Linked DNA regions of Homo sapiens: regions 2 and 3 are each linked to region 1. The links come from fine-mapping of genetic effects on gene expression. A gene starts in region 1. Each other region holds a variant in brackets. All regions are shown on one strand. Distances are between the middles of the regions.

What was found. PIP is the estimated chance that this variant, and not a neighbour inherited with it, causes the effect. A credible set is the group of variants that fine-mapping cannot tell apart.
Region 2: its variant is the best candidate, but not a certain one, in a credible set for the expression of CCDC93 in whole blood (TOPMed, PIP 0.65).
Region 3: its variant is the best candidate, but not a certain one, in a credible set for the expression of CCDC93 in tibial nerve (GTEx, PIP 0.60).

The regions. Positions count from the first base shown.
Region 1 is chr2:118,009,955-118,018,140 of GRCh38, reverse strand. CCDC93 (CCC complex scaffolding subunit CCDC93) reads left to right here and starts at 4,071. Exons shown (of 24, transcript NM_019044.5): 1 at 4,071-4,187. The coding sequence starts at 4,146. It also overlaps the pseudogene RN7SL111P. RefSeq lists silencers at 3,864-4,063, 4,534-4,583.
Region 2 is chr2:118,071,953-118,080,138 of GRCh38, reverse strand. The region is part of intron 1 of LOC107985940 (a long non-coding RNA gene); the gene reads left to right. Among named protein-coding and RNA genes, the nearest start is that of INSIG2, 12 kb to the left of the region's middle. The variant C/G (reference allele first, on the strand shown) is at 4,266.
Region 3 is chr2:117,859,857-117,868,042 of GRCh38, reverse strand. It overlaps the pseudogene HTR5BP. Among named protein-coding and RNA genes, the nearest start is that of DDX18, 49 kb to the right of the region's middle. The variant G/C (reference allele first, on the strand shown) is at 4,562.

The DNA.
Region 1 (8,186 bases):
AAGTCACTATTCACTACTGTGTTGTATATAAAACAATATGTTCCAAGGCAAAAAATTCAATATTCATGCCTCTCCCTAGCCCAATTAAATCAGGATTGCTAAGGGTGGAATCCAGGTGATTCCAATGTGCAGCCAAGTTTGAGAGCTACTGACATAGAAGAAACTCAGCAATATTTGTTGGATGGATGGATGGATGGATGGATGGTTGGATGGGTGAGCAAAAGAACATGGGGAATGAGAAATTTGGGGCTCTGGTTCTAGCACTCCCTCTAATGTGCTGTGTGACCTCGCTGTGTCACTCTACTTTACTGAACACCCATTGTTGCACTACATGTAGAAGGAATGAGAGAAGCCTGAAGACAGAATAATTAAAGCTTTATAGAAAACTTCCGGCTGGGAGCGGTGGCTCACGCCTGGAATCCTAGCACTTTGGAAGGCCGAGGTGGGCGGATCACGAGGTCAGGAGATCGAGACCATCCTGGCTAACACAGTGAAACCCCGCCTCTAGTAGAAATACAAAAAATTAGCCGGGCGTGGTGGCGGGCGCCTGTAGTCCCAGCTACTCGGGAGGCTGAGGCAGGAGAATGGCGTGAACCCGGGAGGCGGAGCTTGCAGTGAGCCGAGATCGCACCACTGCACTCCAGCCTGGGTGACAGAGCGAGACTCCGTCTCAAAAAAAAAAAAAAAGAAAAAAAAGAAAGAAAACTTCCTCCAGAACAAAGCTAAGCCTAACAGGAAGCTCTTTACTATGTGTATTAGGCCATTCTCCCATTGCTATAAAGAAATACCTGAGACTGGGTAATTTATAAAGAAGAGGTTTAATTAACTCACAGTTCTACAGGCTTTACAGAAAGCATGGCGCCGGCATCTGCTTGGCTTCTGGGGAGGCTTTAGGAAGATTACAATCATGGTGGAAGGTGAAAGGAGAGCAGGCATGTCACATGGTGAAAGCAAGAGCTAGAGAGGATAAGTGCCACACTTTTAAACAGCCAGATCTCGTGATGAGTGACTCAGTGTCAGGAAGACAGCACCAAGAGGATGTTGCTAAACCATTCACAAAAAATCCACCCCAACGAGCCAATCACCTCCCACCAGGCCCCACCTCCAACACTGGCTATTACATTTTGACATGAGATCTGGGTGGGACAAATATCCAAACTATATCACTATGGTACCTCTTTACCCACGAACTGGAAAGTATTTGTGAGGCTCCAAAGAGGAACATCACACAACTCTGTACTCAGTGTACAGAAGAGAGACAGAATGACTGATTTCTAGTCCTCAGATATCACACTTGGGAGACACAATTTGTGAGGGTGCCTGGAGTGAAGGGAAAGGGAGAGAGATGGATTGATCTGAGAGATTCCTCACAAGCCTCCTTGTCTGCATTGGCTGTTAAAGGTCTTCTTCAAGACTGTGAAGGGTTTCTGCTCTCAAATATGGGCTGCTTAAACTTTCTTTTTCTTTTTTAAGAGACAGTGTCTTGCTATATTGCCCAGGCTTAAGTGCAGTGGCTATTCATGGTCATGATCCCACTACTGATCAGCACAGAAGTTTTAACCTGCTCTGTTTCTGACCTGGGCCAGTTCACCACTCCTTAGGCAACCTTGCTCCCTGGAGGTCACTGTATTGATACCAAACTTAGTGCAGATCTCTGATTGGCATAGCTTACTAAAGCCCAGAACTCCTGGGCTCAAGCGATTTTCCTGCCTCAGCCTCCCGAGTTGCTGGGACATAAGCAGGTGCCACCTAGCCCTGTTCAAACTTTCTTGACGATATTATGGCTGTTTTGCTGAGATTTTTTTTTTTAAGCATGCCCCATGCCCCTCAACTCTGTTACTGTCACTCTACACCTGTTGTAACATAGGACAGTTTCTTTTTTTTTTTTTAGACAGAGTTTCACTCTTGTTGCCCAGGCTGGAGTGCAGTGGCACAATCTCAGCTCACCGCAACCTCCGCCTTCCCAGTTCAAGTGATTCTCCTGCCTCAGCCTACCAAGTAGCTGGGATTACAGGCATGCGCTGCCACGCCCGGCTAATTTTGTATTTTTAGTAGAGACGGCATTTCTCCATGTTGGTCAGGCTGGTCTCGAACTCCCAATCTCAGGTGATCCACCCGCCTCGGCCTCTCAAAGTGCTGGGATTACAGACATGAGCCACCGCGCTCGGGAAGGACAGTTTCTTACTGAGGAAGTTAGCTACTCATGCTTATTTAAAACATTGCAAAAGCATTATAACAGGGAACTCAGGGTGTGGCCTGAGTCCTGTTATTCTCCAGGCTGCTATTATATACAGCTGTTTAGGCTTGCCTGCTATGTGAGATCTTACTACCTGTTCCTAGGCATCAGTACCTGTCTGGTCACTCAACAGTGGCCACAAATTATTATCACTCTCCATTCCCCATCAACCTATACCATTTCAGTGAATGACAGTTTTAAAACTACAAAAACAACACATTTGGGAAGTTATGAGAGTAGAAATTGAAGTTTATTGGCTTCACAAAGGATAAGAGCAAGATATACCACACAGGAGGGTTCCCATCTCAATACCTTAACTTGCATATTCAGATTATTCAAATTATTGGGGACCAGGGTTTGGGGATCGTGCACAGCTTTGAGTAATATTTGCTAGTTATATTTAAGAACAAAATGGCATCCTTAGGGCAGTTCCAACTATTTGTGAGCTCTGGCTCCAGACAAACCTCTGTCTGTCAGGATGAACTCCAGGAGGAGTACAAAAGGTGCAAAAATAAAATAAAATAGAAAACATCATATATATATACACGTATATATATACACACATATATACACGTATATATATATACACACATATATATATATACACGTATATATATATAGTTTTTAGACAGGGTCTTGCTCTGTCACCCAAGCAGGAGTGCAGTGGTGTTATCATAGCTCACTGCAACCTCAACCTTCCTGGCTCAAGCAATTCTCCCACCTCAGCCTACCGGCTAGCTGGGACCACTGGCACCGGGCTAATTTTCTTATTTTTTGTAGAGATGGAGGTCTCACTATGTTGCCCAGGTTGGTCTCCAACTCCTAGGTTCAAGTGATACTCCCGCCTCGACCCCCAAAGTGCTGGGATTACAGGCATGTGCCACCGCGCCTGCCTACTCTTTTAAAGACGCTAGGGATGCAAAGAAGAGACGAAAGCAAACACGAAACCTTTTTGATCTCAAGGAACTAAAGGTCTGAGTCTGACACTTCCCATCCCACACACATATACAGAGGGAAGGATCTCTTCTCCAGCAAAAGTTTTCACGAAAGTCATCTCTTTCCTCATTGCTTAAAAGAAACAAAAAGCCAAGAAGCCGTTATGGAGCGGGTGTGGGGGCCTGTGACCTTTTGTCTAGTTGCCATCCTCCGGGACCAACAAGGGGTACATCAAATAAGGGACGCGGCGGCTCAAATGACATGAACATAGGAGTCCGCATTCTCTGAGATGTCATTCCTCCAGGAAGACCCAGGAACCGTGAATAGGGCGGGGTGGTGGGCAATATCTGAAGCGAGGTTTCCTGGGAACGCGATGCCACTGGCCAGGACGCTGGAGAGGGCAGCGGGCTTGAAGAATCCCTTCTCAAGGGGTCCGTTCCTGGGTCGTATATGGAGAAGTCTGTCCAAGCGTGTGTCTGTAAGGTCTAGAGCCGGGCGTGCATTCAGAATCCTCAAGCTCATCTGTACTTGGACTCTGACCCTGAAGCGAGGCGGTTTCCGAAGTCTGATTCACCGAGGGGACAGGACCTATTTGGGGCATCCGATGGCAGCGAGAAGAGAAGGGAGCCGAAATGCAAAATATTCTCAAGATGCAGGAGGAACCCCTCTCAAAGAGCGCCACGGAGAAAACTTCAGAGTACGGGCGCGATGATCCAGCACAACGCCAGGACCTGCAGCCCAGCCCACCTCTCCCCGGGCTGCTGTGGCGCAGGCGCAGTGGCGCCGCGCTCCGGCCCCAGCGCGCATGCTCTGCCCGGCTGCGGCGCTTCGGGCAGGCGGCGGCGGCGGCGGCGGCGGCGGCAGAGGGAGTTTCCGCTTTGTACTCCACCCCGGTAGCAGCTCCGCGGCAGGGACAGCTTCCTCCGGACGCTTGGCGGGCTTCGCTCTCGCCTTACGACAGCCCGGTCGGATCATGGGGTTGCCCAGGGGGCCGGAGGGCCAGGGTCTCCCGGAGGTAAGAACGCCTCCTCCTTCCCTGACACGTCGGGGTTCCTGAAGAGAGGGCCGAGCCGCGGGGCGGCGGGCTGAGCGGGCCCTGGGTGCGTTAGGGGCGCCCCGCCCCCTTCCTCAGGCGTATCCACCTCAGGGAAGCGCCGACCCTCTTCTTGGAGGCGGGGAGCAGGTACCCCTGCATGGGCAGGGGGCGGCGGGCGGGTGAGGACAAACTTAAGCCGCTCCCGGGTCTCTTGGGGCGCAGGTGGCCTTCCTAGCCCGACACCTGCTCTGACGCAGCCCCACGCGCCGCGGGGTCCTGGGCTCCCACCTTTCTCCCTGTCCGGGACGGGCTCCCCCACCCCGCGCCGCAGGGCTAGCCCCGAGGGCCGAGGCTGCTGGGCGCTGGAGTCACGAGACCGCTCTCCGAGGCGGTTCGGGCTCGGGTGGTGACCTTGGGACGTCTACCGCCACCCCGCAGAGTCCCGGCGGCCCGCCCCACCCGCCTTGCTGTCGGGAGGGAATGCCACCCTCCTTGCGTGGACCCGGGCCGGGGCGGCGGGAGGAAGTTTGGGAGACTTGCGCGCACCAGGGAGGTGTCCCGCTGGGTCAGCGCGCCGGGGCGTTCGGGGTGGGACGCACTCCAGGGGTGCTGTGTGGCGGGGGACCCGGCTCTGGGCGGAAAGGCTGCGGCTTCTCCAGAAGAGGGCGGGGTTCTTTTCCAAAGGTGTTTGTTAAGTACTCACTTAGTGCTAGGGAGGGGGTCATGAGTGGTTTGCGGATTTCCACGTTTGCTGGGAATACAGGGAAAGTGTATTCATTTTCTTTTGGCTGCAAATACCACTTAGCATCTCATAGGTAGTTTGCATCTGTCGTCCCTTTCAGTTGATTTTACTCAAAGGCTAGTCTAGTTTACTGGATTCTGGAGAGAAATGGAAGCCACGCCGCACCTCTGCCTTTTTCCTAAGGTTCTGGAGCAGGCATTGGGCAGGGTGACTGCTTGCTTGACGTGGTGAGTCGTCCCTTCACACTTACCTGCCAGTGACCAATGTTACTCCTCTGCATTCCTCCCAAATCCTCAGTTCTTTCATATCACAAGTATCCACTAATTGAGGGATCACTGTGTTCTGTGTCCAGAAGCTGGGAATATATATAGTCTGAAAGGACAGATTTGTTTGTCAGTGTGTGCTCCCCGAATGCAAGTCCATTTTGTTGTCTTAAGAAAACCTGACAAGCATAATGTTGTCAGAACCCCTGTATTAGGTAAAATCTTACATGCACGTTGCCTGGGATGGGACCCAGGATAGTGAACAATAGGATTTGTACTGTGACATTTGAAGTTTTCTTTTTTGCCACTTCTGTATTCTAGGCTCTCATCAAGTTTTTGCCTGGCCTTTTGCTGTAGACTTCTGTCTGGTCTCCCACGTTCTACTTTAAATCCGTCCAACCCAATATTCCACAGTACTATCAGTGGAGGTCTTTCTGGGGGGAAAATAAATAAATTAATTAATGAAGAGCAACCTGCTGCTGTATGTCCTTCGTTTAAACTTTCACTGACTGCTAAGAGGCCACACTCACCAGGTCAAGCAATAACTTATCATCATTTAGTTCAGAAGCTAGTAAATATAAATATGGATAGTCTGTGTTATTAGGATGTCACTAGACCAGTTAATTCATTAAATTCATTCTTTTTTTTTTTTTTGAGACAGAGTCTCACTCTGTCACCGAGGCTGGAGTGCAATGGCGTGAGCTCGGTTCATTGCAACCTCTGCCTCCCAGGTTCAAGCAATTCTTATGCCTCAGGCTTCCCAGTAGCTGGGATTGCAGATGTGAGCCACTGCCCTGCCCGAATTCATTCTTTTTAACCCTTTACAAAGATAGCTAGACTTGGCCTGCCTTCCAGCTTACAACAACTATAGTGGACGGAAATTGAAAGTTTATTGGGCTTTGTGTAAGAGCTCATTGTTGTTTGTCTTTGTCAGAAATTTAGCTTCAACAACTGGATGTATTAACCAGCCTGGTGGATTTTTATTGCTTCAAGAGAGGGTCTTTCATTCCCAGCAGATCAGACAGTGGCCCTTTTCCATTTGATTTCAGTGTTAATCTGCTAAGTGAATTTGGAGTCATACATTCCCATTTAGTGTCTTGTGCCAAAATTACTTCACAAGTTATATTGCAAAAGTAAACTTCTCCATGCTAGGGGTGAGTGGATGGAAGCCTGGGCCCTGCATCTGTGGTGGGGTGGCCAGTGGGTGTCCATTAGATAGGTGTTGAGGCAGTGATGATCCTATTTTTTTTTGGTTTTTTTTGTCTTCTTCTCATGTTTTCATAATAAATGATTGAACAAATGAAGTGTTCCTGTTTTACACCCCAGAAGTTTTAAGAAAGTACTTATATTATCTCATTTTCTTTTTCTGCTGACTTGAACTACAACTACTCTTTAGCTTCTCTTTTCTTAGAGTGTTTTCACTTGTAGACGTTTCTCAACCATCCCAGATTTTTTGCAGAAGGGAGAGAAGGTGTGAATTATTTATATTACTTAAGAAAATTTTTATGTCCACTAGGAACTAGTGAATGCTGATCTTCAGGATCCTTAATGGACTGGACCAGGGTCATTTCAGAGACGGATGTAGCTCAGTGCTGTCACCTCCCCCACGCCACTCCTACTCTATTGCAGGGGATTATCAGTCACTTTAATAATTCTGTATTAACTATATTTTAATATGTATACTCCCTTTCCTGGCAGTTTATACATCAAAATAAACTTTCCATTGTCAGGGATGTGATCACTGAAACATTTTATTAATACATGACTGGTTTAGGTTCACTTACTTTATGTAAGCATTAGTAGATCATTCTTTATTTAATAAGTGTGTCCTTGGAGCTTAATGTTGTTTGGATTCAGAGGAGTAAACCCAAGTATATAATATATAGTCCTCTCGTTAATCAATCAGTAGTCCAGTTGCAAAGACAAGCATGTGTATAACACTAGATATCTCACTTTGAAGAGGTTGATACTTAGTTATATGTACAGTATATAGTTGATACTTAGTTATATGTACAGAAATGCTGAGGAGAGTGGCCATTTCAGGATAGACTTGTGAGGGATGGTGTTGCATGGGAGCTGGAATTTGAAAGTGATTTCTCAGTGGTTAGAGAATATAGCCATGGCCTTGTCTTGATTGTTTTTGGGGTAGTTAAAGGATGAACCTGAAAAGATAGTTTGGTGGCCAAAGATCTGAATGTGAAACCAGACATCTGGAGTTTATCTTACAGGCAGTGTGTGTGGTGCATTGTTGATAAGGGCTGGGAGGGTGAGCTAAAGAGGGATAACATGAAAGCTGTGATTTAGGAAGGGATGAGCAAAACAAATTAAAGGAAGAAAGATGAAGAAGCATTTGCAAGAGTTCTGGAATGAAGTATGAATGAAAGGGAAGGGAAGATAAATGTGAGATGCATAGTAAAGGAAGACTTAACAGGCATTGTTGGGTAAGGGAGGACTCAGAGATGATTATGAGCATGTGAACCAGGATATCTTATTGGTGTTTTATATAGAGAGATGGTTTTTTATTTTTGGTAGCAAAGGAAGAGAGGAAAGGTAGTTCATGATAGTAAATAGATGAAAGAGTATTAGAATATTTAGATGGATTTAAGTATTAGATAAAGATTGGGGTAAAAGGAGGATATAAATTAAAAATTTTAAATCAAAATGCTGAGATACGGCCAGGCGCGATGGCTCATGCCTGTAATCCCAGCACTTTGGGAGGCTGAGGCGGGTGGATCATGAGGTCAGGAGATCGAAACTATCCTGGCTAACACGGTGAAACCCCATCTCTACTAAAAATACAAAAACAAACAAACAAACAAAAAAACGGGCGTGGTGGCATGTGCCTGTAGTCCCAGCAACTCGGGAAGCTGAGGCAGGAGAATCGCTTGAACCTAGGAGGTGGAGGTTCTCTCTGGGATCCGAGTACAGTGAGCCGAGATTGCGCCACCGTGCTCCAGCCAGGGTGACAGAGCG
Region 2 (8,186 bases), 62 kb before region 1:
ATATTGCTACTTTATCTTTAAATGTGATTACTTGTCTATTTTCTGTTTAAATTCATCAGAGAACATCCTCTGAGCCCATATTAGTTTCTTAGGAGCTCCTCCATTGCTTCCACCCCACTGTATTGCCAAAACTTAAACTTTGAAAATATTTAATTTCTTTTCTTAGCACCCCTTTAAATGGATTCTACTAATCCTTTTCTTATTCTCTCTGTACAATCCACTTTTACACACTAGATATTCGCATCTTGTTAATGCTTGCCATCCCTTTCTTAGGCTGAAGAGGGTATAATGGAGTGGTTAAGAGTCAGACAGACCTGGGTTTTAATTCCTGCTCTCCCTTAATATCTGTTTAATCTTGAGAACATTATTTTACATCTTTGAACTTCAATTAATTTTATGTGATAATTGGAGATTATGAGGGGATTAAATGACAGTGGTATTGAGGAAATATAAATACATAGTAGGCACTCATTAAATGGTAGCTCTTACCAATATTCATCTCTTATCTTTTTAATTGACAACTGCAATAGTCTCCTCCATTCCGTGCTTCAGTTCCACCTAAAACATACCAAACACCCTGGCAGGTGATTTTGTAATGTCGTTTTCTTTGTGAGTTGTTGCATATGTTTCTGCCTGGTTTTTGGTTTTTTGTTTGTGTTTTAGACGGAGTCTCGCTCTGTCACCAGGCTGGAGTGCAGTGGTGCAATCTTGGCTCACTGCAACCTCTGACTCCCTGGTTCAAGCAATTCTCCTGCCTCGGCCTCCCAAGTAGCTAGAACTACAGGCACATGATACCACTCCTAGCTAATTTTTGTATTATTAGTAGAGATGGGATTTCACCATGTTGGCTAGGATGGTCTCGATCTCCTGACCTCATTATCTGCCCGCCTCGGCCTCCCAAAGTGCTGGGATTAAATGCGTGAGCCACTGTGCCTGGCCTTGCCTGGTTTTATCAACAATTTTAGTGAGTTCTACTAGGGTCAGATTCATCCACTCTTTCTTTTCTTTCGTAATCTTTCTAGCCCCTAGCTCAGCTCCGAGCTAAAATGTCTAGAGGTGCATCCTAGATTATATAACTGCCCCCACATTCAACAATTGAGTGTCAGAGCCGAGACTGACTGTTGCCCCAAATTCTCTCTGCAAATAGCTCTAAGACACCTTCCTACAGGGAAGCTAATGTAGAGGAATGTTGCTTGTCTGGAATGATTGCAGTGCTTGCAGGTGTATAATTAGTCACTAGTCAGTGTATAAATATGCTGTAAATTGCTTTATTTGTTAATGTGAAAAGCTCTGCAGAAATACAAGGTATTATAGGAACCAAGGCTGAACATGGGAGATAAGGTATTGTGGGAGAAGAACAAGTGAGTGAGGCATCAGTGTGTGTCATATGTCCCTCTGCTGGGATGAAGCTTATAGGTTCTCCCCGCCTCGTTTTCTAAGAACACCGACTCCCCTGGGTGAATAATTTAAAGGACAAATTACCACTCTTCTGGGTACCAAAGCCAGCCATAAGCTGAAATTAAATTAAATCATAAAGCCCTACAAGAAACTGAAGGAAGAGTCAGAAATGTAAAACCAAGGGAATCGAGAGCTAAGGATGAAATATGAGAGTCAGTGCGATGTCCTTGCCTTCCTGTGCTGATGAAGTAAAAAACTGAAAACCACCCTGGTACAGACCTAAAGGACCACGATCAAATATCCATTGTTAAGTACTTGGCAGTGGCTATTGCAATGATTTCAATTCCGATGGGGTATTGGAGGGAGGTAGGAGAGAGAACATTAGATCAACTTCAAGTCCTTGTACTTCAGCTAACTAGCTAGGTGACCTTGAGCCAGTTAGTACCCAATCTGGACCTTTGTTTCCTTCATCTCTCGGTTGAAATAAATGTAATCAGAGTTTGTGTTTCCATTTTTTTCCCCATATCAGCTCAGCGATCATAGTGAGCTAATAAAAACGCATATACAATTTGCCAATTAAAAATATAGAAAGCTCATTATCTCTTCTCAGAGCACAAGCCCTATTACCATAATGAAAAGTTCCCCTGTACTCCTTAGTAAGAGACCAGGAGATAGAAGGGCAACTGTGGAAATGGAAGACCATAACGTTTTGTTCTAAAACACTGTGTCCTCATAGTTTCCTCCAGAGGGAAACGAGTATATACCTGGTGGCTTAGAGGGGCGGGAATACCCTGTGTCCAGGAGGCAAGCAGTACTTTGAATGCCCAAGATTGGCTTCTGAGAAAGAAACTTGGCATGCTTATACTGCAAATCTAATGATCTAGTCACTCTACATCAATGGAATGAGAGAGAATTATGAAATCGTTTATTTAATCTCTACAAAGCAAGGACTTTGGTAAACAGTTTAGCAGCTGATCTGCTGCCAACGTGGAATGTAGGTTGGAAACCAAGTAAAAGTTGAAAACGGAGCAGATGTTGTTTTCTAGGATGCTATATCACCGAAAGGCCTGAAACACATCCTAGGTCTGGCATATTAAGCTTGACTCTATCAACATCACAGCTAAGCCTGACCAGCATTTACTACCATGACAGTATCACAAGAACAGCAAAACAAAATTCTAAAATTAAATGGTTCTTTCTCTTGCTAGAAAGCTGTGCTTGACTTCTTGGTGTACATGGATAAAGGCTACAATGAAGGAAACATTTTAGAAATACTCGCCTACCTGGTAGTCCACAGATCTTTAGATTTCATTGGCCAGCAAAATCTCAAAGGAAGAGAAAGAGAGAACAAGAGAGACCATCATATGGAAGACAAATTTGATGCCATCACTTCAAAATGAAAACATCTGGCTCACGCCTGTACTCCTAGCACTTCGGGAGGCCGAGGCAGGCAGATCACTTGAGGTCAGAGTTCAAAGCATCCTGACCAACATGGTGAAACCCCATCTTTACTAAAAATACAAAAATTAGCTGGGCATGGTGGCAGGCGCCTGTAATCCCAGCTACTTGGGAGGCTGAGGCAGGAGAATTGCTTGAATCCGGGAGGCGGAGGTTGCACTTTCACTCTACTGTCCTCCAGCCTGGGCGACAGAGAGACACCGTCTAAAAAAATAATAAGAAGAAAACAACTATTATCTACTACCACTATCATTTATAAAAGGATGTTTTAACACTAAAACAAGGAAGGACACTGTCTCAGAATAAGGGGTAGTCCTTTAATTGCTTTGATTTAGTTATTGGACATACTGACTACATTGCCCTTTAGTTTTGTTAGTAGTCATGGAGCAGTGAAAACTTCATCCTCAAGCAGAATAGTTCATCTGTGTGCATTTGGAAAGCCCTGCTCTTTGGAAGATCCTCTTAAATCTGGAAAGCCCCCTTCTCCAAAAATCCCAGTCTTAAATTCCCTCAGGGCCCAACTTTGAACCTCATTTTTACTTTGAAGGTTTTCTTGGTTACCTATTGACCACAAGGATCTTTCTACTTTCTGAATTCCTGCAGCACCTGTAATTTTAATACATAATCTAGCATTTTTATTTCGTGGGAAAGGTTTTTGAAATGTAGAATATTTTGGAGATAACGTTTAATTTTTAAGTAAACATTTAAAAGCTTTATTACCAACTGATAGAGCCACAAGTTAGACATTTCTTTAAAAAAATTCTAATTTAAGAAGGAAAAAAAGTATAGAATTTTAGAACAGAGATGAATCTTCCATTACCCAAATTCATCCGAAGTTGGCTGAGGTCTTTTATGGTTGACAGTATAGAATCCAATATATTTTGATTGGTAGACTAGACTTACATTAAGAAAGGATCATTAGCCTTTGGATTTTAATGTTGTCTCTTCTCTCCATCTAGATAAGTAAGCATCAGAACAACTCGTCTACTTCCTGTTTCAAATGCTCCGATATTCTCATATAGCTAGAATAACAGAATCCTATGTAACAGAAATTGATCTTAGAGATTATCTAGTCTATATCCTTAACAGATGGAATATCTGTAGCCCAGGTATAGTGAAGTGACTTGCCCCAAATCCCAAATCGATCAGAATTAGAGTTGGGATTTCTAATCTCTGAGCTTGCAGGTATTTTAAGTATACTAGTCTTATATCTCCGTATCTCTAGATATACAGTACATTGCACACCATGGTCCCTAAACAAGATTAAAAAGACAAGTTTTCCCCATCCCCTAGGCTATCCTTTTCACTCTTGTTTATTTCTTCTTTCCTTCCTTGGCACCTATTACCTCTGACCTCTCCCCACCCCACCCTACTTCCAAACCCATTAAAATCTAGGTTCTTAGGAAAGG[C/G]TATGAGAAACTCATCTACACAGCGTGAATTCCTCATAATTGTTCATGGAGTGTTTGCTGTGTGCCAGACATTTTTCTGGGTTGGCTGAATGTGGGACTTCTCCTAGAGTACTAGCAATTTTACAAGGTAGGAAGAAATAAGCCAACAAAGTGAATCTTCATTCAAGGCACAAGGGAGACTTCTTATTTCTTTGAAATTACCACATATCAGCAATGATTTTACTTCTAAAATCAGCCAAATTCTTCAGAGTTGGAAGCCTGCCCTCCTTTTGTCCCTCCACTACAATTACCACAAGACTTAGATATTTAGAAATATTTACAAATTCATATTGACAACGTAACAGACCCTTTTTCATTTTCCTAATTGGGAACTAGTCTTTTCTCCCTTAACAAAAACCAAAGTGTTAACACTTAAATGCAGGTTTGACATATTTTAAATATTTTTAGATGTTATTCTCAAAACCATGTAGACCCAATCCTAGAAATGAGGGCTCCTATCTCTGGAACAAATTTACTACATCATCTTCTCCAATTCTCTAAACTTGTCTGGCCACAAGTTTTCACATTTGTGAAACAGAAAAATTGTTCTTAATGGAGACTGAGGTATTGGAGGGTTGGGACCACACCTTTTAATCTTCTGTATGTTACCACACAGAGCCTCGTCTCGGGCTCTGCCCATGCAGATGCTCAGGAAATGCTTGCTAACTGAAGATTTTTATGATCACTGATAGAAAGACAGCATAAATGCAAAACACGATTTTTCCCTTGCCCCAAGTTACCCAGGAGCATCATTCTCATTCAGAGATGACCACATTTCAGAAAGTGGGTCTCATAAAACATACAATTTAATGAAGCCATCTGGGAAGATGATCATCATATAAATGCAAGATATTGATATTATCTGGCTACTTGGGGAAACACCGTCTAAATGAAGGCGCAACTCAGCTCCATAATTCAAATCTAGTATTGATGTACAAGGTCTTTGGATAATGGACTTTGCAGATTGACATTTCTCACAGATCTGAGGCTACTTTTCTCCCCTCCTTTGCAATTTTACTATATTTGCAGTAAGATTTTATTTTACTTTTTGGAAACATCTTTTTTTTCAGTAGGAATCTATCAGTGTCAACTGGGAGTCTTGAAACAGAGATTTTACATCTGTCTTTATTGATGTTTTTAAGCTTCTCTTTTTTTGAAGCAAGAAGTGTTGCAAATAACTAACATAGGCATTTCTTTGCTGCTCCAGTAATTATATGGGATGTTGTTCAGTTATTCAGCTTCCCAATTGATTCAGCTGCTTTCTTTTCTTTCATATTCTAGCAAGAAGGCGTGCTCTACTTCTGATATTATCTGGAAGACTGTTCTAAATGAAGCCACCGGGTAATCTGTTCTCCTCTCTTAACAAATGTTACCTCCTTTCTCTGAGAGATAATTGCTAAAACAATACCAAGTTCAGGCATGCCAGCAGTCACACAATGATAACAGCCAGCAGGCTTTGGCACTGTATCTTTTATGTAGTCTGAGAAAGGGATGGAGAATTCCCTCTACAATTAGGACTCTGTCTCACTATCTCCACTGAAGAAATTACCATTGGCATTGAGGCAACAGCTGCCCCCACTGTGTAAACCAAAGTTCTTCTGGGGTCCTCACAGTCTCTCCAGGAAATAATGGGATCCAGTATTTGTGCTTGCCTCTCCTGAAACACTGAGCCTATTTGGCCCTGGCTATCCCCAACCACCCCCTCACCACACACTCACCAAATAATATGTGAGCACAGTCCATCACCACACTCTTCCTAGAGGTTGGTGGAGCTCATGGACATTGTCTGAGCATGTGTGTCATGGGTTTGCTCACCCCAGGAGCCACACATGGTGTTCAAACATGGTGTCCCTTTAGAGAATATGTATGGCAGGGCTTAGAGGTGCAGAGGCAGAGGGATTGTTTCACATGCTGTGTCTGGCTGATGACTGAGGTGGGTGGGATACATAGGGAGCTGGCAATATATTCTTGATCTTTAATTCTTTTCATACTCACTAGAGAAATTCCTTTTCCCACTGCTTATCTTCTTGCATCCCTAAATCACAGGCTAGAGGTAAGTGTGTCCAGAGCTGAGGGACAAGACACTTGCATGCTTTATATCCCAAGGGAGAGTTTGCATGCTCAAAAGCAGGGTAAGAAGAAATTCCTGGCCCTCTTTCTCCTTGGCCTCAGCCAGGTACTGTCACTGCTCATCCCTGATGGGAAAGGAATATTCAGAATTTCAGTCTAATAAGGCTGTTGAGAGGTCTAGAGTCTTAGAAGTCACATTAGCAAGTACATTCAGTGAGCGCCGTGGGCCAGATATGGTGCTAGGTACAGAGCAGTGACATCACCAAGATGGTTCAGTAGGAGATATTAGCCTTCCTCTCCCCACACACAAAAAACAAATGCAGGTGACCATTGCACAATGCAGGGTTAAGGGCACCAGCTCCCCGCATAGTCAAAAATCCATGCATAACTTTTGATTCTCTCAAAACTTAACTACTATTACAATAGCTTACTGTTGACCAGAAGCCTTACTTATAACATTAAACAGTTGTTTAGCACATATTTTATATATGTATTATATATTTTATTCTTACAATAAAGTAAACTAGAGAAAAAAATGATATTAATTGCAAAGAAGAGAAAATATATTTACTATTCATTAAGTGGAAGTGGATCATTATAAAGGACTTCATCCTCCTCATCCTACATTGTTGAGGCTGAGGAAGAGGAGAAAGAAAAGGGGTTGGTCTTACTGTGTCAGGAGTGTCAGAGGGAGAGGAAAATTTGCATATAAGTGGACCGGCATAGTTCAAACCTGTGTCATTCCAGGGTCAACTGTGTAGAGGGCTCAAGGGCCTATTAAAAAATCTGCAGCTATGCAGGGGAGTAAAAAATGGCAAATATCTACACAGTAAGGTGCTACATATGGGTTATAGTAAGGAAAGAAATCCAGTTTGTGCCTTCGAAGAGTTCTCAGCCTGGTAGGGGACTCATAGCAGATTTTGTATATACATCTGTTAATATTCTCAGCGTTAATCTTAATTTTAAGAGTCTCCAAAGTTTTTCATGTTGCAAAACATGAAACTAAAATTGCAAAGGTAGTGACAAAAATAGTCTAAATACTCCTAGGGATTGGAACTCTAACATAGAAATAGCAAGTAGAGAGATAATTCCATCCAAATAGCTGACTGTATCATATCAACGACTAAGATGTTGAGAAAAACAGATTTGCGGCAAATAAAAGACATATATACTAGGGAAAACCTTTCCATTTCTCATGAAACATTAGATAATTATGGAAACCCAACATTATTTATTTAATTATTTATTTTTTGAGATGGAGTTTCGCTCTGTCGCCCAAGCTGTTGTGCAATGGTGTGATCTCAGCTCACTGCAACCTCCGCCTCCTGGGTTCAAGTGCTTCTCTTGCCTCAGTCTCCCGAGTAGCTGAGATTACAGGCATGTGCCACCACGCCTGGCTAATTTTTGTATTTTTGGTAGAGACAGGGTTTCGCCATGTTGGTCAGGCTGATCATGAACTCCTGACCTCCAGTGATCTACCCGCCTCAGCCTCTCAAAGTGCTGGGATTACAGGTGTGAGCCATCACACCTGGCCCAAACATTTATTTTTAAAAGGTATCTTTATATATAGAGATTGGTCATTCAGATAACCACTTTTTTTTAGCTGATTTCTATTCAGAGCTAGGTTGCCACAGTAGGAAGGCAAAGAAATCTAAGACAATCTTTTCCTTGGGTCACAATATTAGTGAGAAGATGAAGTTTTTGCATGTGGAAAAATTAAAGAGATATTGATTCACACTGTAAAATGCTTTTAAAATCTTTTGCCTGATATCTAAAGATTCTTTTGAGGAAAAAGATGTACAACCATAACCA
Region 3 (8,186 bases), 150 kb after region 1:
ATATAGTGGAAAGGTATTCCATGTTCATTGATTGGAAGAATAAATCTTATTAAAATGTTCACACTACCTAAAGCAATCTACAGATTCAATGCAAGCCCTATGAAAATACCAATAACATTCTTCACAGAAATAGAAAAAACAATCCTAAAATTTATATAAAAACACAAAAGACCCAGAGTAGCCTAAGCTGTCCTAAGCAAAAACAACAAAACTGGAGGAATTATATTACCGGACTTCAAACTGTGCTACAAAGCTATAGTAACCCAAACAGCATGGAACTGTCATAAAACAGACACAAAGACCAATAGAACAAAATAGAGAACCCAGAAAAAAATCCATACATCTACAGCAAACTCATTTTTGACAAAGGTTCAAAGAACATACACTGGGGAAAGGACAGTCTCTTCAATAAATGGTGCTAGGAAAACTGAATATCTGTATGCAGAAGAATGAAACTAGACACCTGCTTCTTGTCACATGTAAAAATCAATTAAACATGGATTAAAGACTTAAATCTAAGACCTCAAACTATGAAACTCCTACAAGAAAATATTGGGGAAGCTCTTTAGAACACTGGATTTGGCAAAGGTTTCTTAAGTAATACCCCACAAGTACAGGCAACCAAAGCAAAAATGGACAAGTAGGATCACATCAAGTTAAAAAGATTCTGCACAGCAAAGGAAACAATCAACAAAGAGACAACCCATAGAATGGAAGAAAATATTTGTGAACCATCCATCTGTCAAGGGATTAATAACCAGAATATATAAGGGATTCAATAACCAGAATATATAAGGGATTCAAATAATTCTATATGAAAAAATCAAATAATTTGATTAAAAAGTGAGTAAAAGATTTGAATAGACACTTCTCAAAAAAAGACAAATAGCAAACAGGTGTACTAAAATGTGCTCAACATCACTGCTCATCAGAGAAATGCAAATCAAAACTACAATAAGATATCATTTCACCCTAGTTAAGATGGCTTGTATCCAAAAGATAGGTAATTACAAGTGCTGGTGACGAAGTGGAGAAAAGGGCACCCTTGTACACTGTTGGTGAGAATGTAACTTAGTACAGACACCATGGAGAACTGTTTGAAGGGTCTTCAAAACACTAAAAATAGAGCTGCCATATCACTCAGCAATCTCACTGCCAGCTGTGTATCTAAAAGAGAGGAAATCAGTATATAGAAGAGATATCTGCACTCCCATGTTTACTGCAGTGCTAGTCACAATAGCCAAGATTTGGAAACAACCTAAGTGGCCATTCATAGATGAAGGATAAAGAAAATGTGGTACATACATATAAACAATGATATCCCATCATAACAGCATGGATGGGACAGGAAGTCATTATGTTAAGTGAAATAAACCAGGCACAGAAAGACACACTTCACATGTTCTCACTTATTTGTGGGAGCTAAAAATTTAAACAGTTGAACTCATGGAGATAGAGAGTTGAATGATAGTTACCAGAAGCTAGGAAGGGTAGTGGGAGGGGGTAAGAGGGAAGGGTTCATGGGTACAAAAATACAGTTAGATAGAATGAATATGATCTAGTATTTGATAGTACAATAGGGTGAATATAGTCAAACATAATTTATTGTACATTTAAAAATAACTAAAATAGTATAATTGTATTTTTTTTTTTGAGACAGAGTCTCACTCTGTTGCCAGGCTGGAGTGCAGTGGCACAATCTCAGCTCACTGCAACCTCTGCCTTCCCAGGTTCAAGCAATTATCCTGCCTCAGCCTCCCAAGTAGCTGGAACTATAGGCGCCCATCACCACACCCAGCTAATTTTTGTATTTTTAGTAGAGATGGGGTTTTACCATGTTGACCAGGATGGTCTCAATCTCTTGACCTCGTGATCCGGCCACCTCGGCCTCCCAAAGTGCTGGGATTACAGGCGTGAGCCACCACACCTGGCCTGGATTGTTTGTAACATAAAAAAGGATAAATGTTTGAAGTGATGGATAGCCCATTTACCTTGATGTGATTATTATACATTGCATGCCTGTATCAAAATATCTCATGTGCCCTATAAAAATATAAATCTACTGTATACCCACAAAAATTAAAAATACAAAATTTTTAAAAATTAGATTGTATCCCATAAGTATATACAATTATTATTTGTCAATTTAAAATAAATATATAAACATAAATGGCTCTGTACAGATTTTGGGTCACTTGGGGCCTACTGCACATAACCTTTATGGCAGTGTGTCATTGTTCAAACAAAACGTCAACAAAGAGGACTGGCTTAGAAAGTCAAATTTTTGTAATACAGCATAATCTAAAATCTATGTTCCAAGTTGCCATAAACCCTAAAGCTCAATACCTCACATTTACTTTGCCCTTCACAGTTTACATAGTGCTTTCCCATACACTATTAAATCTTTCAGATACCATTGTACTTTGGACAGATTTCTAGCAGAGCACTTATAAGACTTTATTGCATTTATAATTCTATAATTATAATCTACTAAAAATCCACTGGGAGCAGGAAAGTGCTTATTCATTCTTTGAAACCTCAGAGGACATTGCCTGGTACATAAGATCAGTAAGTCAATCGAGTAATTTTGAACACTACATTCAATATGTTTTGGGAAATACTTCTCCCGAAGATGAAGCCTAATTCCTCTTTTCTTGAGTGTGAGCTGGACTTAGTGACTCACTGCTAATGAATAGAAAATAATCATATGTGACTTCTGAGACTAAGTCATAAAAGGCACTGCAATTTCCTCCTTGCTTCACTCTCTTGGACGGCTTGCTCTGGGGAAAGTCAGCTATCATGTGGTACCACCCAAGCAGCCCTTTGGAGATGTCCTTTTCTCAAGGATCTGAAGCCTCTTGTCAACAGGCATGTGAGTGCTCCATCTTGGAAGCAAAGTTTCCAGCCTCAGTCAAGCTTTTGAATGACTGCAGCCCCATGCAACATCTTGCCTACAGCCAAAAGAGATGTCAAGTCAGAACCACCCAGCTAAGCCATTCTGAATGCCCAACCCACAGAAACTGTGAATTAATACATGTTTGTTCTTTTAAGCCACTAAACTGTGGGATAATTTTCTACACAAGCAATAAATAATCTACCTATGATTATGAGGAATAGCAATAAGAGAAATAAAATAATACTTTTCTTATTAAAGAGAAATAGAAAAATAACAAAAGTAATGCGGTAGCTATTATTTATGGTTTACTACTTAAGGGACTCCACATATGATAGAATTTCATTTGCTCTTCACAAGAATATTAAAAGACACGTGGTAATATTTCCATTTTACATATGCAGAATTGCAGATGTAGATTAAGTCACTTGGCTGAAGTGCTAATAAGTGGCAGTCAAAAAAATTGAAACCCACGTTTCTTTGTTTCCAAGTCCCATGTTCTTAACCACTGTGTACATTATCTCCCAATATATATTTATTAAGAATGAGTGCAAGAACCCAATTCACAATTGCCAAGATTTGGAACCAACCTAAGTGCCCATTGACGAATGAGTAGATAAAGAAAATGTGGTATATATACATAATGGAATACTACTTGGCCATAAGAAGGAATAAAATAATGTCTTTGGCAGCAACTTGGATGAAGCTAGAGGCCATTATTCTGAGAGAAGTAACTCAGGAATGGAAAACCAAATACCATGTGTTCTCACTTATAAGTGGGAGCTAAGCTATGAATATATGGGAAGGCACACAGAGTGATATAATGGACTTTGGAGACTTAGAAGGGGACACTAGTCTGGTGACAATTGCACTAAAGTCTCAGAATTAACCACTATATAATTCATCCATGTAAACAAAAACCACTTGTAGCCCCAAAGCTATTAAAAAATATATTTAAAAATTTTAAAAAGAAAGCAATAGTACGATTAAAAAAAAGAATGAGGGCAAGATATTAACCAAGGCTTCATTATAATTTGTGTGGTCCCTAGACATCTTTGCCTTAATGTATCCCTTCCTTCATTAAGAAATACTGAAAATTATGTTAAACATTAGTATAAGCAAGTATAAGCAAGACTGGATTCATTATAATATATTCATTAGTGTTATATTCATTTTTCCTCTAATTTTAAAAGAAATTAAAATTAAAATATTTCTATGGGTCCCTAAAAGAATTCTGGTTCTAAGTAGTATGACTACTACGCCTGATGGATAACTAGGTCCCAGCATCAAATTGCACACAGAAATCAAACAAGCAATAGCAAAGAAAAGAGAGAGAGATAGGAAAAAAAAAAAAAACCCTTTTAATGTCACATTTTAAAAGCCAAAGAAATAATGTTTCTTCTTTTCTAAACAGTGAAGGGCACAGGGCAGTAGGAAGTAATCGTAACCCATGGGGCTTGCTTTGGGGTGGGGAGCAGATTATAGTGTACATGGGATGCTCAGAGTCTCAGTTTAAGATGTTGAAAGAAAAGACACCAGGGCAGGAATTAAACCTGTCCCCTGAGGGAAGCAGGCAAGGCTTTTGTGCTCAATTGTGTTCAGCTCTCCTGAAAAGGAGAGTTCACCTGAGTAGTTTTGAGATCCTGCTTCGTGGGACCCACCTTGACT[G/C]GGCTGTGACTGCCTCATTCCTCTCAAGCAGAGACACCCATGAGCAGAGGGGCAGGCCTCAGAAGTCAAGTCCCTGGAGATGGCATGGAGTAATGAAAACAGTGATTTCTTTTTTCTTTTTTGAGTCGGAGTCTCGCTCTGTCATCAGGCTGGAATGCAGTGGCACGATCTCGCATCACCGTAACCTCCACCTCCTGGGTTCAAGCAATTCTCCTGCCTCAGCCTCCAGAGTAGCTGGGACTACAGGCATGTGCCACCACACCCAGCTAATTTTTGTATTTTTAGTAGAGATGGGGTTTCACCATGTTGGCCAGGATGGTCTCGATTTCTTGACCTCGTGATCCGCCTGCCTCCGCCTCTCAAAGTGCTGGGATTACAGGCATGAGCCACCGCACCTGGCCAAAAATAGTGATTCTTAGATCTGGTACAACCTTCAGACTCTCTACCCAGGAACTGCGTGGTTTTGGATGAACTAGGTTTGTGGTGCCTTACCATAGTTTTCTCTTGCAGTTTTCTCATCTGTAAAATGAGGGCCTTATGGCAAAGACAGTGCTCACCAGATAGCTACATGCTCCCTTCCAATTCACTGCCAATGGCTGGCCAATGGGCTGCAAATAGTGATGACATGCTTCCAGTTCAGGGTAAGGCAGTAAAAAGCTGGCATATCTCCATACATAGCTCTTCTCCCACAATAAATCTGGAAGGCACATGTGCAAGGCAGCATAGCTAAAAATGATAAATGGCCCAAAATCATGAGAGACTGCCTGGAAGAGAGCTGTGCAGGTATGCAGACCCACATTGAACTTTAAGTCAGAGTGAAATAAACTTCTGGTTTGGGGTTACATGTTACCACAGCATGCCTTAGCTTATCCTGACTAATAGAGACTTAATGCCAACTTTACTGAATTGTGAGAATGAAATGAAAGGGTGAATGTAAAGCATCAGAAATGTGTCTGGAAGAGACAATTCACTCAATAAACATTTTTTTCCCTTCTCAACTTTGAAAAACTGCATTTTGCCCCAAAGGATTAATCATTGCCCAAAAACTACATTCTGATAAGACCCCTGTCTTATAATATGTTAGTGTTGGGACCTAGACACGGAATTCTGAAAAAGATGAAGGTCTTACACAGCCTCATCAACAGAGGCCTTCAGGCTTCACATAGGCTCCTGTTCCCTGCAGAAAACAGTACAGACACTTTGCAGAGCCTAAACACAATACAACTCATTTCGCCTGGAGAGTAGAATGATGCAGGTGGGGGAAAGTAGAGAGGAAGTATTCCTGGCGCGGTGTTTTACACTTTTGTTTAGATGTCTTGTTTCCAGAAGGCTTGCAAACGTGGACTCAGGAACATTACCCAGAAGTTTGAGTGAGGGCTTGCTGTGACCCATAGAAGCAGCATGCTCCTGAACACTACCCCATCTACAATCTCAGCATCCTGTGATTCAAGGCCCTTAGACATGACTTAGAAGAATACTGTATGTTAGAGAAGTTGAGGCCCAAAGTGGGGAAGGGCTTGCCCCAGGTCCTCCTGCCGGGAGTGGCTAAATTTTTAACAGTTCCTCTTCCTCTCAGAGCTCTCTCTATCCACCAATGGACACTCCAGATTGGCCAGCCTCTCATCCAGGCACCTCTTCCCTGTGTCACCTGCCTGAATGGGAACTGTCAAAAATGAACACTAAAATCAGGCTTGGCAAGGTTTTCCGGCATCCATTTCACCGTGATTTCTCTAAGTGCGCATTGGATTGACGTAGCTATTAAAAGTCAGCCCTAGCTCGGCAATCAGACAGAAAAGCTATAATCACCCCAGGCATTTCCAAGGGACCTTTCAAAGAACATCATTAATTCTGAATAAAACTCTCCCTCACCAACACTTCCAGTTATAGTCTTGACATTCCTATTTTATGCTGCAAAATTCCTCTGCCATTTAATGTAGAAGAAAAAAGGCCTACTTTAAAAATCACATGTATTTGTCCTGTATTCTAAGTATCTGAGTTAATTTTCCAAAATTAAAACAAAACTAGCAACAAAAAACTTTCCTTGTCTCTTTTTGCTCTCATATGCACCTCTTCCCTCACCCATGTATTGTATTTGCAAAGGGCAATAAATCCTGTTAATCTATAGGACCGGGAGCATGTTACTTGAAACACCTGATACCCTCAAAAGAGAAAGTTGAGGCTTCCAGAGTGAGAAGGATGCTGAGCACCTATTAGATCCTGGCCAAAAGGCAGAAAGCTTCAGACAGAATAATAAATACGGTGAGAGAAGATCTGCCGACTGCAATTTTGCTCATCTCATTACATTTCCAGCATTATCTTCCTCCTCCTTATGGACTGCCAGGCAATATCCTGTTGAACCCCTTCTTTCTCCAGCCAGTCTGCCACCCAGTGTGTGCCAGCCACTATGCCAGGTGCTTTACATTCTTCATCTCACGTAATCCTCACCAAGAGCCCTATCAATTACGAATGAACATGTTTAAAGATGAAGAAATGAGACCCACAGATATTAAGCAACTGTCCTAATGTCCCAAGCTGGGATTTGAATCCATGGTTCTCTTTCCTAAATCACTAGAGGATAGCTCCGGGGTTGAGATAAGGAAAGCAAAGTGACACCAATTATTATATTTTAAAATCCTCACTATTCCCCTTGGCAGGGTGCTGGCTAATGGAGTTGGGGAATAGTCTCTGAACTGCAGAGGATAGACTGGGGTACGGTGGAGACAGAAAATAAGGCGTGATTGGTCACAGGAATTTCTGAAAGACGAATTCCCAGTCCACTGCATCCCCTCTAGGTCTAGTTGGGACAAGGAAGCCGGCGGCTCCAGGACTCACATGGACAGGGGCCCTTGAGGGGGAAAACAACAGATAGTGCAGGTAACAAGATGTGCCCTCATCGCTACTGAGACGGGCTGAACCTACAAGCCCCTCCGGCCATATCGTGCGTCGTGGGTCGGTGTCAGATCTGCCTCCCTAACGTGCAGATTGTGAAACCCTTTCCTCTGCGCGCACCAAGTACGCAGCTGGCGAACCCCTCACTTGCGTGCCAGGTGAGCCGGTGACAAGCCCCTCGGTGCCCGCTTCAGAAGAACTGATGGCAAACTTGTCCTCGTGCGCCCCAGGTGATCTCTGGGCGCGCGCTCCATTAGTACAAGCTTCCGCCCACTCTCCCATTCGCGAAGCTGCCTCCTTCTCTAGCAACCGCTTCCCCATAGCAACGTTCCTCAGCCCACCCCTCACCTGCATGGTGGCCGGCAACGGCAGCACAGCTCTCCGGCGGCGGCCGAAACGAAACTTGGCCGCCTCGTAGATCTTCCGGTAGACAAACGGCACCACGCCAAGCGGCAGGTGGAAGGCGCCGCGGGTGGAGAAGGCGGCATAGGAGGGTTCCCGGCTCACCTGGCAGCGCTGGAGCCGAGCGTCGCACACCTCGCCCCGGCCAAAGAGCAGCGGCGCGAGGGCGATGAGCGCCGACGGCACCCGGGCGAGCGCGATCATGAGCAACGAGGCGCGGCTGCGGGTGCGCAGCGTGTGCTGCAGGTGCCGTGTGATGGCCCCGTCGCGGCCCAGGGCGATGGCCGCCACGTTCCCGAGGCCGGCGGGGCAGCACAGCCGTGGAAGGAGATCC